Linked DNA regions of Homo sapiens. The protein of the gene in region 2 interacts with the protein of the main gene of each other region in a biochemical or structural test. Each region holds a gene or a part of one and is shown on either strand. Other genes may lie near its edges.

Region 1 (5,605 bases), on a different chromosome or scaffold from region 2:
CCCATGAGGATTTTTTTCAACCAAATGCAGATTGAAAATAGAGTATTCACAGCATGTGAAAACCCAAGTGTATGGAGGGTCAACTTTTCCTATATGTGGGTTCTGCAAAGCCAACTACAGAATTTGAGTATGCATGGATTTTGGTATATGCAGGGGTCCCAGCAATTGCCGGTGTCTGCTGAGGAATGACTACATAAGAAACTCCATTCTAAGAAAATTGCTGTTTTTGCATTCAAAAATTTGACAAAGTAGATAAGCTTACATGCAATGCAAATAGCCAATGAGATTAAAAAGCTTCAGTTACCACTAGGTGCTGCTCAATAATTGACTGTTGCCTTTTATTTCAAACACTGGCGCGTCAGTCCCCATCCAGTTTATCAACCCTCTAATCTGCTTTTTGGTTTTAAAGAAGAAAAATTGGAACAAGACAAATACCAAGTATGTCCATTTCCCAAATGGAAAATATATATTTAAATAAAGACCATACTGCACACCAAAGGTAAAACAAATACTTTTATTGCACATTTATAAAATCTGCATAGTTGTATCAATTTTTTTCCCTTTCATGATTCCATTAATCTTTAAAATTTGGTTAAAACACAATATCCAATCAGAAGCCTTTTAAAAATGATCAATGGGAAGTATTTTTCTCTACATATACATATATATATAGTTTTGCATATGTATGCTGGTTTTTTTTTTTTTTTTTTTTTTTTTGTACAAACCCACATCCCTTACTTTTAAGGGCAAAAAAGAAGGCCGGGTACGATGACTTGTCTGCAATCCCAGACTTTGGGAGGCTGAGGGAGGCAGATAGATCACTTGAGGCCAGGAGTTAGAGATCAGCCTGGCCAATATGGTGAAACCCCATCTCTATTAAAAATACAAAAATTAGCCAGGTGTGGTGGTGCATGCCCGTAATTCCAGCTATTCGGGAGGCTGAGGCACGAGAATCACTTGAGCCCAGGAGACAGAGTTTGCAGTGAGCTGAGATTGCACCACTGAACGCCAGCCTGGGCGACACAGTGAAACTGTCACAGAAAAAAAAAAAGAGCAAAAAAGAGGAGGTGGACCTAAATGGTCTTTGGGCCAGCAGTAGCCCTATTGACTGTTTTTGACAATTTTTAGGTATTAGAAAATTTTACCTAAATGCCTAATAACTATTAATGGATGATCTTCAGTCAAGTTACACAATGCTCTTCTGTCTAAAGTCCTTAATACTTTACTTTCTTTCACTGAGGACTGAGTATGAGGTTTTCTGGTTTAAAGATAGAAAAGAAAGGAGAGAGACAGGTCTCTTTTGACTTTTCAACATCTCACTGCCATGTGAGCTTATATTCTACCCACATGTAAAAGGGTGCAGTTCATCAGCAACCCATTTTGTTATCTCCTGGCAAGAGCCAGGCAAGGTTTATATTTCTAATCTCTTGTAGTTAAGAATTTTTAAATGTCATCTGTATTTGATAAAATAACTAGTAGCTGTTCATCTGGTTCAGGTTCTCATGAATCATTCTTCTATTCTGCTGTCAAAAATATTTATGCCTGAAGGATAATTTTAAAAGTGGCAAGAGGCTTAGAAAAGCCTAAGCATTGTTGTAGGTACAAGGCATTTCAGGTCTTCTGGCGTAATTCAACACCTTAATACACTGCTTTCTGCCTTTTCTAGTGAAACAGCTTTTATGATTTTGTACCTAAAAAGTGCAATTTTATTTTCAATCCTTCTTTACACATGCAGCATGGTTGGGGTCTGATCGGAATCTTATGTGCCCACCTAATCCTTTTCCCAAGGTGAGCACTATGACAACGAACTTCTGTGCAAGAGGCAGGCAGCCAGGAACCAGAATGGGCCTTGAACATGTGGGAGCTTATTTCACTGTCACAGTTGAAACTCCCTGAATTGACTCCATGACAGCTGCAAATCGGCTACATAGGTCATAGGGAGAATTGGGTCGAATAGTTGGAGGCTCTTTCAAGACGATGATTTCTGCAGAAGGATCTAGAAGTCTGGGTAGAAACTCCCCTAGGCACAGCTGCAGATTTTCTGTGGAGGGAAAACAGATGGTTACATATACAGCTAAACAGATTTCTGAGTAAAAGTGAACAAGCCTTCTATTAGCCCCTTACCTAACCTCAAAGGTCAAAGCATTATGCTGGCCAGTTACTAATAAATGATTATTCCTTCAGGCCAAACCAGGAGCAAAGGCAAATAAACCAAACTTTAGCTCACTGCTATATAACAACTATATAATTACTTTATTACGAAAGGGTCTTCTAACCAATTGTCTTCTTAAAATACAAGGAAGTAGATATGATACTCTAGCATAGATATGATGGTAATTATTTTCTTTCAAATGTTTACAATATATCAGTGTATACACATGGTTTTAAATCAGGGGTGTACAGTCTTTTGGCTTCCCTGGGCCACACATGAACCTCACTAACAATAGCTGATGAGGTTAAAAAAAAATTCATAATGTTTTAAGAAAGTTTAGAAATTTGTGTTGGGCTTCAGGTTGGACAAGCTTGGTCTAAATAAAAACTGAAGACAGTAAAGGGAAACACATGGCAACTAGCTATTACAGGATTTTTAAATAAATACTATCAACTTAAACACTTGAACAAGTCAATGGAATATCTTTTTTTTTTTTTGAGACGGAGTCTCACTCTGTCGCCCAGGCTGGAGTGCAGTGGCGCCATCTTTGCTCACTGCAAGCTCCGCCTCCCGGGTTCACGCCATTCTCCTGCCTCAGCCTCCCAAGTAGCTGGGACTACAGGTGCCCGCCACCACACCCGGCTAATTTTTTGTATTTTTAGTAGAGACGGGGTTTCACCATGTGAGCCAGGATGGTCTCCATCTCCTGACCTCGTGATCCGCCCACCTCAGCCTCCCAAAGCGCTGGGACTACAGGCGTGAGCCACTGCGCCCGGCCTTTTTTGTTTTGTTTGTTTTTTAAAGATAGGGTCTCACTCCAAGCTGGAGTGCAGTGGTATGATCTTGGGTCACTGTAGCCTCGGCCTCCCAGACTCAAGCAATCCTCTCACCTCAGGCTCCTGAGTAGCTAGAACTACACTATACCCAGCTAAGTTTTCATTTTTTGTAGAGGCAGGGTCTCACTATGTTGCCCAGGCTGGTCTCAAACTCCTGGGCTCAAGTGAGCCACCCACCTTGGCCTCCCAAAGTGCTGGGACTACAAGTGTCAGCCACTGTGCCTAGCCCCATCAATAGAGTATCTCTATGTCAGTGAGAACCTAACAAAGAGGATTCATATCAGAATATATAACAATTTTCCAAGTCTACTGAACTCACCTAAAAACAACCAGCTTTACATTCCCTCCTTAAGATGCTTTAAACAAGCAAGGACAGTCCACTAATTAATCTTGAAGTCATCATAGTTAATATGCTATATAACTTCAAGCCACAGAAAAAATTCATCAAGGCACCCCTCCCATAACCATACTCTGCATGATTTTTTTTTTTTTTTTTTGGATATGGAGTCTCATTCCGTGGCCCAGGCTGGATTGCACTGGTGCTATCTCGGCTCATTGCAAACTCCGCTGCCCAGGTTCAAGTGATTCTCCTGCCTCAGCCTCCCGAGTAGCTGGGATTACAGGCGCCCATGACCACACCTAGCTAATTTTTGTATTTTTAGTAGAGATGGGGTTTCGCCTTGTTGGCCAGACTTGGTCTTGAACTCCTGGCCTCAGGTGATCTGCCCACCTCGGCCTCTGAAAGTGCTGGGATTACAGGTGTGAGCCACTGCACCCAGTCAGATTTTGATTTTTAAACTATAAAAGAGTTCATCTTTTGGCACATGAGAGAGTAATGGAAGTCTGACATTCCTGGAGAGCAGTGACTTTTTTCAAACCAGGCTTGTTGGTTGCCCATGGAGGTGATTTGGCAGTCATGGGGAAGCTAAAGGGAGGTTAAGAGGGGCAGAGGCCCAGGCTCCCTCCTCTTGTTTCAATAGAGCAGATCCATTTTTAATTTACTTATATGCTAGAAGGTTCCAATTCCTTAAAAAGGTTTGGCAACCAGTGCTATCAAGTGAGAACACTGAAATTTCTACAATTCTCAAAACCTCAGAATATTATTACCAAGAGCATATACCTGCAATATCTTGCCCAAGGTAAGAGCACCAATGGTTTCTCATGACCTCAATGGCATCCAGATCATCCTTGGAAATGTCATTATTAATGATAAGGTGAATGCAGGGGATGATCAGTTCATTCATCACATTAATGCCCTCAGTTACGGAGTGATCATCATTTGTTTCAAAAAGAGAAGCTGCTTTGGCATTCAGCTCCTACAGATAAAAGGTAGAATTAGGTGGGGAAGAGTCTGAAAAAGATAAATATCTCTTTAATAACAGTCTAAACAAGTGGTTCCCAAACTTTACTGCACATTGGATGTACTTAGGGATCTTTAAAAACTACTGATGCCTGGTTCCCACTTCTGATAAGCTGATTTAATTAGTGTTTAGATGACCGGGACACTGGGATTTTATGAAAGCTCCCAAAGTGATTCTAATGCTGTAAAGTTTATGACCCATTGGCCTAAACTTGTAAGTCAAGGTCATGCTTAACACCTGTTTCAACCAAAGACCTGTTCACTGGTTGTCTATCTCCTCTGAGCATCAGAATCACCTGCAGAAGACACACTGATGCCCAGGGCCCTTCCCAGGGATTCTGGTTTAATTGCTAGGGAGAGGCCTGAGCTTCACGACTGTCTGAAAGCTCCCTATATGATTCTGATGCACACTAGGGGTTGGGACTCAATAATGGAAAGAGTCTAAATCCCTATAATTGCATTACTTCAGAAGCTGAGTAGGATATTCAAAATGTCAATCTATTTGGTGATTTAAAATATAAAAACATGGCTCTAATAAAATTCAGATCCATCAAACCAACAAGATCCCTTTTCAGCTTCAAAGTGGCCCTGCCACACCTATAACTAATACAGATGTCAAAGTATAAATCAGAAAATAAAGCTATTGAGTATATGTCATGACTTAATCTCACCCATTCGGTATGAACAAGGTAAAGGCAGTGGTAGAAATATTGGCCTGACTTCTGTGAAGGGCAAATTTGCTGGGTATTGGTGAAAACACACACAAGCCCACACTCTGAAGGCAGGCCACCCCTTTACAGTTCTCCAAAGGACACACATCACATAAACCCCTGGGGAGGCAAGGGGATGTAGGTCTGCCTTTCCATGTAGTTATACAGTGCAAATCAGGCCAGGAGAGAGTTAGTCTTCACTAGTATGTGACAATGATGTTATCAGAACAGCAGGACCAATTCTTACAGTTCCTACCTTTATTTTAAAAAAATGGAGTGTCAGAAGTCACTAAAACTTTAAGTCTACCAGCTTAAATGTGAACATGGAAAAAATGCTGCATTCCTTCCACACACATTTATTACATGGTTCCTACATGACAGGCACAGAGGAAATGGCTGAGTGAGAAAAGGATCTGAGCTCAAGGAATTTACAACCTAGTAGGAAAGCAATGTGATAAAATCTATAATGCAGGCATACATGAAGGGCACACAGAGGGATGACTGATTCTCATCTTAACTTCTATCAGTTATCATTGAAGAAGAATGA
Region 2 (6,781 bases):
GTTCAGAAGAGATGCCCAGATGAGGCACTGCAGGAACCCAGAGGGAGAAGTCGCGGCTGACAGAGATGAAAGCGGAGTGGGTGGGGAGACGGGGAGGGGATGAAGAGATGTGGGTGGCCTGGAGGATTCGGGAGCAGGGAGCAAGGCCCAGGAGCCTGGGGTGTCAGAAACGGCAGCTGGTTATGGTCGGGTTGTGTGGTGTGGTGGAGAGAACCCAAGAAAGCTTCTAAACCAGAGTGTGTTTGGAGGTTGGAGCAGAGGGCGAGGGCCTCCCGGTTTCAGGAAGCCACACAAGGGAGGACCGTGGGTTTGGGACCAGTCCTCTGGCATCTGTGTGGAGGTGGCCCAGCCACTGTGGAGGCCTGAGGAGTCATCAGGGGGCCCCTCTCAGTGCATCCAGGTGGGAGATGGTCATGGGTGGCAGGAGACAAGACACAGAAACCTGAAGGCAGAACCCCAGGCCTCGGGGGGTGACCGTGTGGACAGCAGATGCCAAGAGGGTGCCGGGCAGGGAAGCCGCAGTGGTCAGCCACCCTCCCCCACGCTGCTCTGACCTCTGCAGGTCCCAGCTCCAGAGGAGCATCTTCAGCGCCCTGGTGGTGGCCTGGTACTCCTCCGCGTGCCACGTGTCCAACACGCTGCGCCCACTCACCTACGGGGACAAGTCACTCTCGCCACATGAACTCAAGGCCCTTCGCTGGAAAGACAGCTGGGACATCTTGATCCGAAAACACTAGAACAAGAGTGTGGCAAAGAACACCCGTGCTGGGGTCGGGATGAGGTTGAAGGGTCTTGGTCAATGTACGTAATGAGCAGGGTGGGCCCCACGCTGGGAGGACACGGGCTGGGCTGAGCAGGGCCTCTAGTGGAACACATGGGGGTCTCATTGAAAAGCTCTCTGATGAGCACCTCCTTTTGTGCAAAGTTAATTTTTTCTCGACAATAAAGATATTCCGTGTCTTTACCCCTGAACTAAGACACAGGGAGTATTTCAGAGGCCAGCGTAGGAGTCATTGACAACAAAAAGCCGAGAACCCAGGGCCAGCAGTGGAGCCTCAGCAGACCAGGGCCTGGTCCTTGCTAACTGCTGCAGGGTGGAGTTTGATCTGGCAGACCCGATCCTCCTTCATGAACACCCAGCAACCTGAGCAAGTCCCGGCCCTGCCCTCAGCGAGCCCGGCAGGCGTCCTGGGACAGCTCAGTGTTGGAGGGCCACCTGAACCACGAGCCAGGGCTGGGGCTTGCATGTCATTGTCTATGACAGCGTCAAGACTGGCCCTTGGCACCGTGCTGTGTGGAAACCCTCCCCTCTGAGACTCCACTGAGACGTGGCTGAGTGAAATCTTCCTCGTCAGTGGTCAAGGTGTGTCATCCATACAGCTCCATGCCTTTGTCTTTTTTAAATGTAATTAAAAAAGGAACCAACTGGCGTTTGTAGTTGGTGTTTGTTATTTATTGATTCTCCCTCCAAAGGGGCCTAAGCTCGACAAAACCGTTACAGTTGTCAGAACCCAGCCACAGGGCTCAGCCCCCTTCCCCCACGTCACGTCTGCATCACTACTGTGGGTGAGCCTGGACGGACGGGGGCTGGGGCTGCCCATGGCAGCGGCAAGGGATGCTTTCCAGAGACAGCCACCACGCAGGAGGGAGGATCACCCCAGGCAACCCAGACACGGGTGTTCACATGTGAGGCTGTGAGCTCCACATAGCACAAAGGAGGCTTGCTGACTTTGGGCGGCCATGTCTGCTGGGACCTGGGTGATCCAGTGCGTGCCACAGCCAGAAGCACCATTCCCTGCATATGGCCACTAGCCACCCTGGGGTGGGACAGCCTGTCTAGACAGACAGCACCTTGGGGGCTCCCCTGAGGGTCAGTGAGGGCCTGACCCCAGGCAGGACTGCGTGGACGCTGTTCTCCAGCCGGGACAGACCTGGCCTCCGCTGCCTTCTGCCCTACTGCATGGGCTCCCAGCCTGGCCCCGCACAAGCCTGGGTGTGATGCTGGGTGCTTCCAGGGCATCCGCCTCGCTTCTCTGCCTTTAAGGCACAAGCAAGGGGGGAAAACATCCCTCAGTGGCTCCCCATATCCGTGTAGGCCACGCTGGACTGCAAACCACTGGGTCATGAAATTAGGTTTGTAGGCCACAACCAGCCTTGTGTTATGAAACAGAAAACAGAAAACATGAGGACATGTAACATGTAAAAAAGGAAAGTACTTGTTCACAAAACTTTTGAGTTATGTGTGTGAGTGTGTAAGAACCAGATCAGACTGGAAAAAACTCTCTCCCACTGTGGGTTCACTGTCAACAAAACATCAGGCCAGCCAGTGTCTAGGCTGTCTCCTCAATTTCCCCAATAATGTGCCTCACATTCCTCACAGAAGCCTCCCAGGCTTCCTGCACATTCTGTGGCATTTCTCAGTGACCTAGAGGGATCTTTAAACCGCAACGAGCCTAAGTGGCTGAAAACCTCAGGAACGCCTGTCAGTGTCCCAGCAAGTTGAGTCTGAGTGACACATCTGAGTTTCCACTCCTGAGTGAGGAAGGCCTCGCTGCTAACACTCCCCTGGGGTGCGCCGAGAGGAAGCAGTGGGTGTGGGTGGGCGTCCCCAGGCTCAGTCCCTGAACACACATGCCGGGCGGGAGACCTGCCCTGAGGCTCGGCAGCCCCTCAGTGGGGTCTGCTGCTGGACTCCAAATGTGACCGTTTGCCAGAGGTCAGCATCCCAGGGTGGTCCCCTGGCTCAGAAAAGGTCCGCTTGTAGCTCCGCCCATTGGACCCTCCTCGGTGCCATTTGCAGATGTCACCATTCAGAATGTCCTGGATGTGCTGCACGATCAGGTTGATGGCAACTGCGCCAAGAGACAGACAAGCAGCGGGTTAGCCGCATCCATCCTCCGTGGAGACCGCCCCTCCCCGCAGCACTCGGCCAGGAGTGAGCGCCCAACCTCTGCCCTGAGGCACAGCCTGCGGCGAGGGGCATCGAGTCAAATCTCAGCAGACAGAAACATGCATCAGGACACAGCAAAATAAGACTTCTTAGCTTGGTCTTCCAGGAATTTATGTTAGAGTCTGCTTAAAGTACTTTCTGCTAACAGATTTGAATATACATATATATATGTTTTAAGAAACAGGTTCTTACTTTACTGCCTAGGCTGGAGTGCAGTGGCCCAATCACAGCTCACTGCAGCCTCAACCTCCCAGGCTCAAGCAATCCTCCCACCTCAGCCTCCTGAGTAGCTGGGACCAGAGGCACATGCCACCATGCCCAAATAATTTTATTTTTTGTAGAGATGGGGTTTTGCTATGTTCCCCAGGCTGTTGAACTCCTGGGCTCCAGTGATCCCCCTGCCTCAGCCTCCCAAAGTGCTGGGATTACCAGTGTGAGGCACCGCGCCCAGCTACATACATTTTTAAGCATATTTTAACCCTGTGCCGCAGATCAACACTGGCAGGCCGCGTGCGCAGGGGAGTGCTCAGTAACTGCACACTGGTGGAACTGTCCCTGCCTCAAGCTCTGGGAGGGGCGGGGGGACAGCCCAGCAGGCCAGCTTCTTACCCATATTGTCCACTCCTCGCGGGATGATCACATCGGCATACTTCTTTGTCTGTAAGGCACAAGGGGGGGTGTTCCTGTGAGGACTTTTCCTTCAAAGGTGATTTTAAGATGCTCAGAAACAGATGCAACAGCAGGAGGGGCGGCCCTGGGGTGCTCAGAGGTGCTGGTGTCATCGGCAAATGGGGGACACAGACTCAGTCATCAGCCAGGTGTGAGAGGCCATGATCCAAGAAGTGAGGCAGAAAGTGCAGCTGAGGCAGCCAAAAGAAAGTGCCTCTTCCAGTGTCCCCATTCCATCACAGAAGACAGCCCCCTTCCAGTGTTCCCACTCCATTACAGGAGACAGCTGGCTACGCTAACGACTCAATTCACTGGGCCAAGCTAAGTGTGGCACTTCTACAAAGTGTGACATTGTTCCTCTGGAATCATGAAGCTTCTGCAAATACCCTGGCACAGCAACAGGACAGCCGCCGCCGTGCATAATTACTGCAGGCAGAGACGCTGATGGTAACTTACTCCCTCATCCAACCACTCATTGGCTCAATGCTGACTCTCATTCCCTGTCAGATGCTCTGCTGCTGAGGAAGGACAAGGATGGAGATATATCAGGAAATGCAGGGCTGCTGGGGAGGGTCCGCAGCCAGATGGTGGGGGTTGGGGGGTGGCTTTAGGGAAGGGGAAGCAGCCTGGAGAACATGGCTGAATCAGACAAAGCTGAGGGAAGAGGGAGGGCAGGGTCTGGGCCGAAGGACGGAACTTGGAACGGTGCGTGCTGCTGGCGTGTGGATTTGGGTCAAGAAGGCGGCAGAAGAGACAAGCTGCAAGAGGCAGACAGGGACCAAGTCCTGGGGACAGCTGTGTCTGCAGTTGGTGGGACCCCATCTCATGAAAGCACGAGCGCAAGGGCGAGGGCTGCTTTCTATTCTAGTCTGATAGTCTGACGGGCTGGAGGAGTCCGGGAGAGCTGACAGGGGTCTTAACCGCCAGCAGGGATGGGCCTGAATACAGTTGGGAAATACCTACGGGGTCCAGGCAGAGGACTGCACAAGCCACTCAACATGAAGGTGAAGGAAAAGGAGGCTCAAGAACGGCTCTGGGTGGGGCTGGGGCCGGGTGCGGTGGCTCACGCCGGTGATCCCAGCACTTTGGGAGGCTGAGGTGGGTGGACTGCTTGAGGCCAGGAGTTTGAGACCAGCCCAGCCAACATGGCAAAACCCCGTCTGTGCAAAAAAAAAAAAAAAAGGAAAAATTAGCCAGGCGTGGTGGTGCGTGCCTGTAGTCTCTGGCTACTCAGGAGCCTGAGGTGGGAGGATCACTTGAGAGTGGAAGGTGGAGGCTGCAGTGAAGCAAGATCTCACCACTGCACTTGGGCCTGGGTGGCAGAGGGAGACCCTGTCTCAAAAAACAAGCAAGCAAACAAACCAACCAAAAACATCTCTGGGGCCTGGGCCCAGAACATAGCAGGTGACAGCACTTCCTCTACTCAGGTCGCTGAGGCAGATTTGATATCCAGAGTTTTACTGCGAATCACCTACTTTTTGCCAAATATCTTTCTGTGAATGAGAGACTAAAACAAGTTAACTTTACTTTTAAAATTATATTTTAGAAATTTCAGACAGCATGAATGCAAAAAAAAACAAAAGTTTTCTTTATATAGCAGCCAATAGGCCAGGCATAGTGGCTCACACCTGTAATCTCAGCACTTTGGGAAGCTGAGGTGGGAGGACCACTAGATCCCAGGAGATGGAGACCAGCCTGGGCAACACAGGGAGACCCCATCTCTACAAAAAATTTAAAAATTAACCGAGCATGGTGGTGCACGCCTGTGGGCCCAGCTACTCGGGTTGCTGAGGTGGAAGGATCGCTTGAGCTTAGGAGGTCAAGACTGCAGTGAGCTGTGATTGCACCACTGTACTCCAGCCTGGGCAACAGAGCAAGACTCTGCCTCATTAAAAATAAAATTTAAAAAAAGGCCAGGCACAGTGGCTCAATCCCAGCATTTTGGGAGGCCAAAGTGGGTGGGTCACTTGAGTCCAGGAGTTCGAGACCAGCCCAGCCAACATGGCAAAACCCCATCTCCACTAAAAATACAAAAATTAGCTGGGTGTGGTGGCGTACGCCTGTAATCCCAGCTACTCGGAAGGGTGAGACAGGAGAATTGCTTAAACTTGGGAGGTGGAGTTTGGAGTGAGCCGAGATCGTGCCATTGCACTCCACCCTAGACGACAAAAAGAGACCCTATCTCAAAAAAAAAAAAAGCAGCAGATAGAACTTACTTGTCCTACATTATCAAAGGCAGGAATCTTGGTTTCAGTTCCTTTGTGCTGTATTTTTACCTTAACAGGCAAAATGTTCCCGTGCAAAACACTCCCATTTGAGTAGAGCCACGAGTCCCACCAAGCCAGAAACACAAGATGGAGAAATGGAGAAAAGACAGGTGGGTGTGCAGCGGGGAGTTCCTGCTCTCTGCGAGCCAGCTGGGATCTGGGCACAGCGCTCACTCCAAGATTTCAGAGCACTGGCCCAGAGCAGCCTGGGGTCACAGACCCTGGAGGAGCAGCTCTGAAGCACCTTCTGAGGGCCAGATCCCGGCCTTGGCAGTGAACAGACTAAAGTGCTCCTGGGCTTCCCCACTCTGCGGGGAATAAGCACCCAGGACGTGTCAGATGATGGTAAGTGCCCCGGAAAAAGGAAGCAGGCAGAGAGGCTGGCGCTGGGTGCAGAGGGTTTTCAGTGTTGAATGGGGACGCTGGGCAAGGGCCTGAGGCAGGGAGGAAGCGGCCAGTGTGAATGTGGGGGAGATATGGGGCTTTTTTAGGCAGAGGGAGGAGCAGGCACAGAGAATGTTTTTACAGCTGAGAACTACTCCCAGGGTATGTGGCCATAATGAGCCAAATTCTTCTCCTTTTTTTCAATCAGATCACTGTCACCCAGCACTAAGCCCTCTCACAGTACTGGGTCCCATGTGTCCTTGTGAAAGGGGAAAATGGGCTCTGAAGCAGCGAGCACAGGTACCGGCAGGCAGAACTCCTCGAAGGCCGGCTTCACGAAGGTGGTGTACTGCGTCAGAATCTGCTCCAGGTCCCTCCCTCGGCGCACGTCCCGGAGAACTGCAGCGGCAAGGGGCAGGCGTGCTTCAGACCTCAGGACCTGCCGCCAGCCTCGGCCAGGCAGGCACGGAGGCCCGCGGCCGCCTTACCTCTTCGAGACAGCCTGACGTCG

What was found.
Region 1: of the proteins of UCK1 (region 2) and USP28, one has a biochemical effect on the other in vitro, tested with the Homo sapiens proteins (one study listed by BioGRID).

Annotation. Positions count from the first base shown.
Region 1 is NC_000011.10:113,797,375-113,802,979, forward strand, and holds the end of USP28 (ubiquitin carboxyl-terminal hydrolase 28), read right to left. Parts: intron 4,305-5,605; coding exon 4,109-4,304; intron 2,042-4,108; coding exon 1,866-2,041; 3' UTR 501-1,865; downstream 1-500. UniProt on the Homo sapiens protein: Deubiquitinase involved in DNA damage response checkpoint and MYC proto-oncogene stability. Involved in DNA damage induced apoptosis by specifically deubiquitinating proteins of the DNA damage pathway such as CLSPN.
Region 2 is NC_000009.12:131,522,370-131,529,150, forward strand, and holds the end of UCK1 (uridine-cytidine kinase 1), read right to left. Parts: coding exon 6,759-6,781; intron 6,670-6,758; coding exon 6,575-6,669; intron 4,135-6,574; exon of another isoform or gene 4,076-4,134; intron 3,609-4,075; coding exon 3,560-3,608; intron 2,853-3,559; coding exon 2,671-2,852; 3' UTR 1,432-2,670; downstream 1-1,431. Other genes in the region: POMT1 (protein O-mannosyl-transferase 1), read left to right, coding at 563-737. UniProt on the Homo sapiens protein: Phosphorylates uridine and cytidine to uridine monophosphate and cytidine monophosphate. Does not phosphorylate deoxyribonucleosides or purine ribonucleosides. Can use ATP or GTP as a phosphate donor.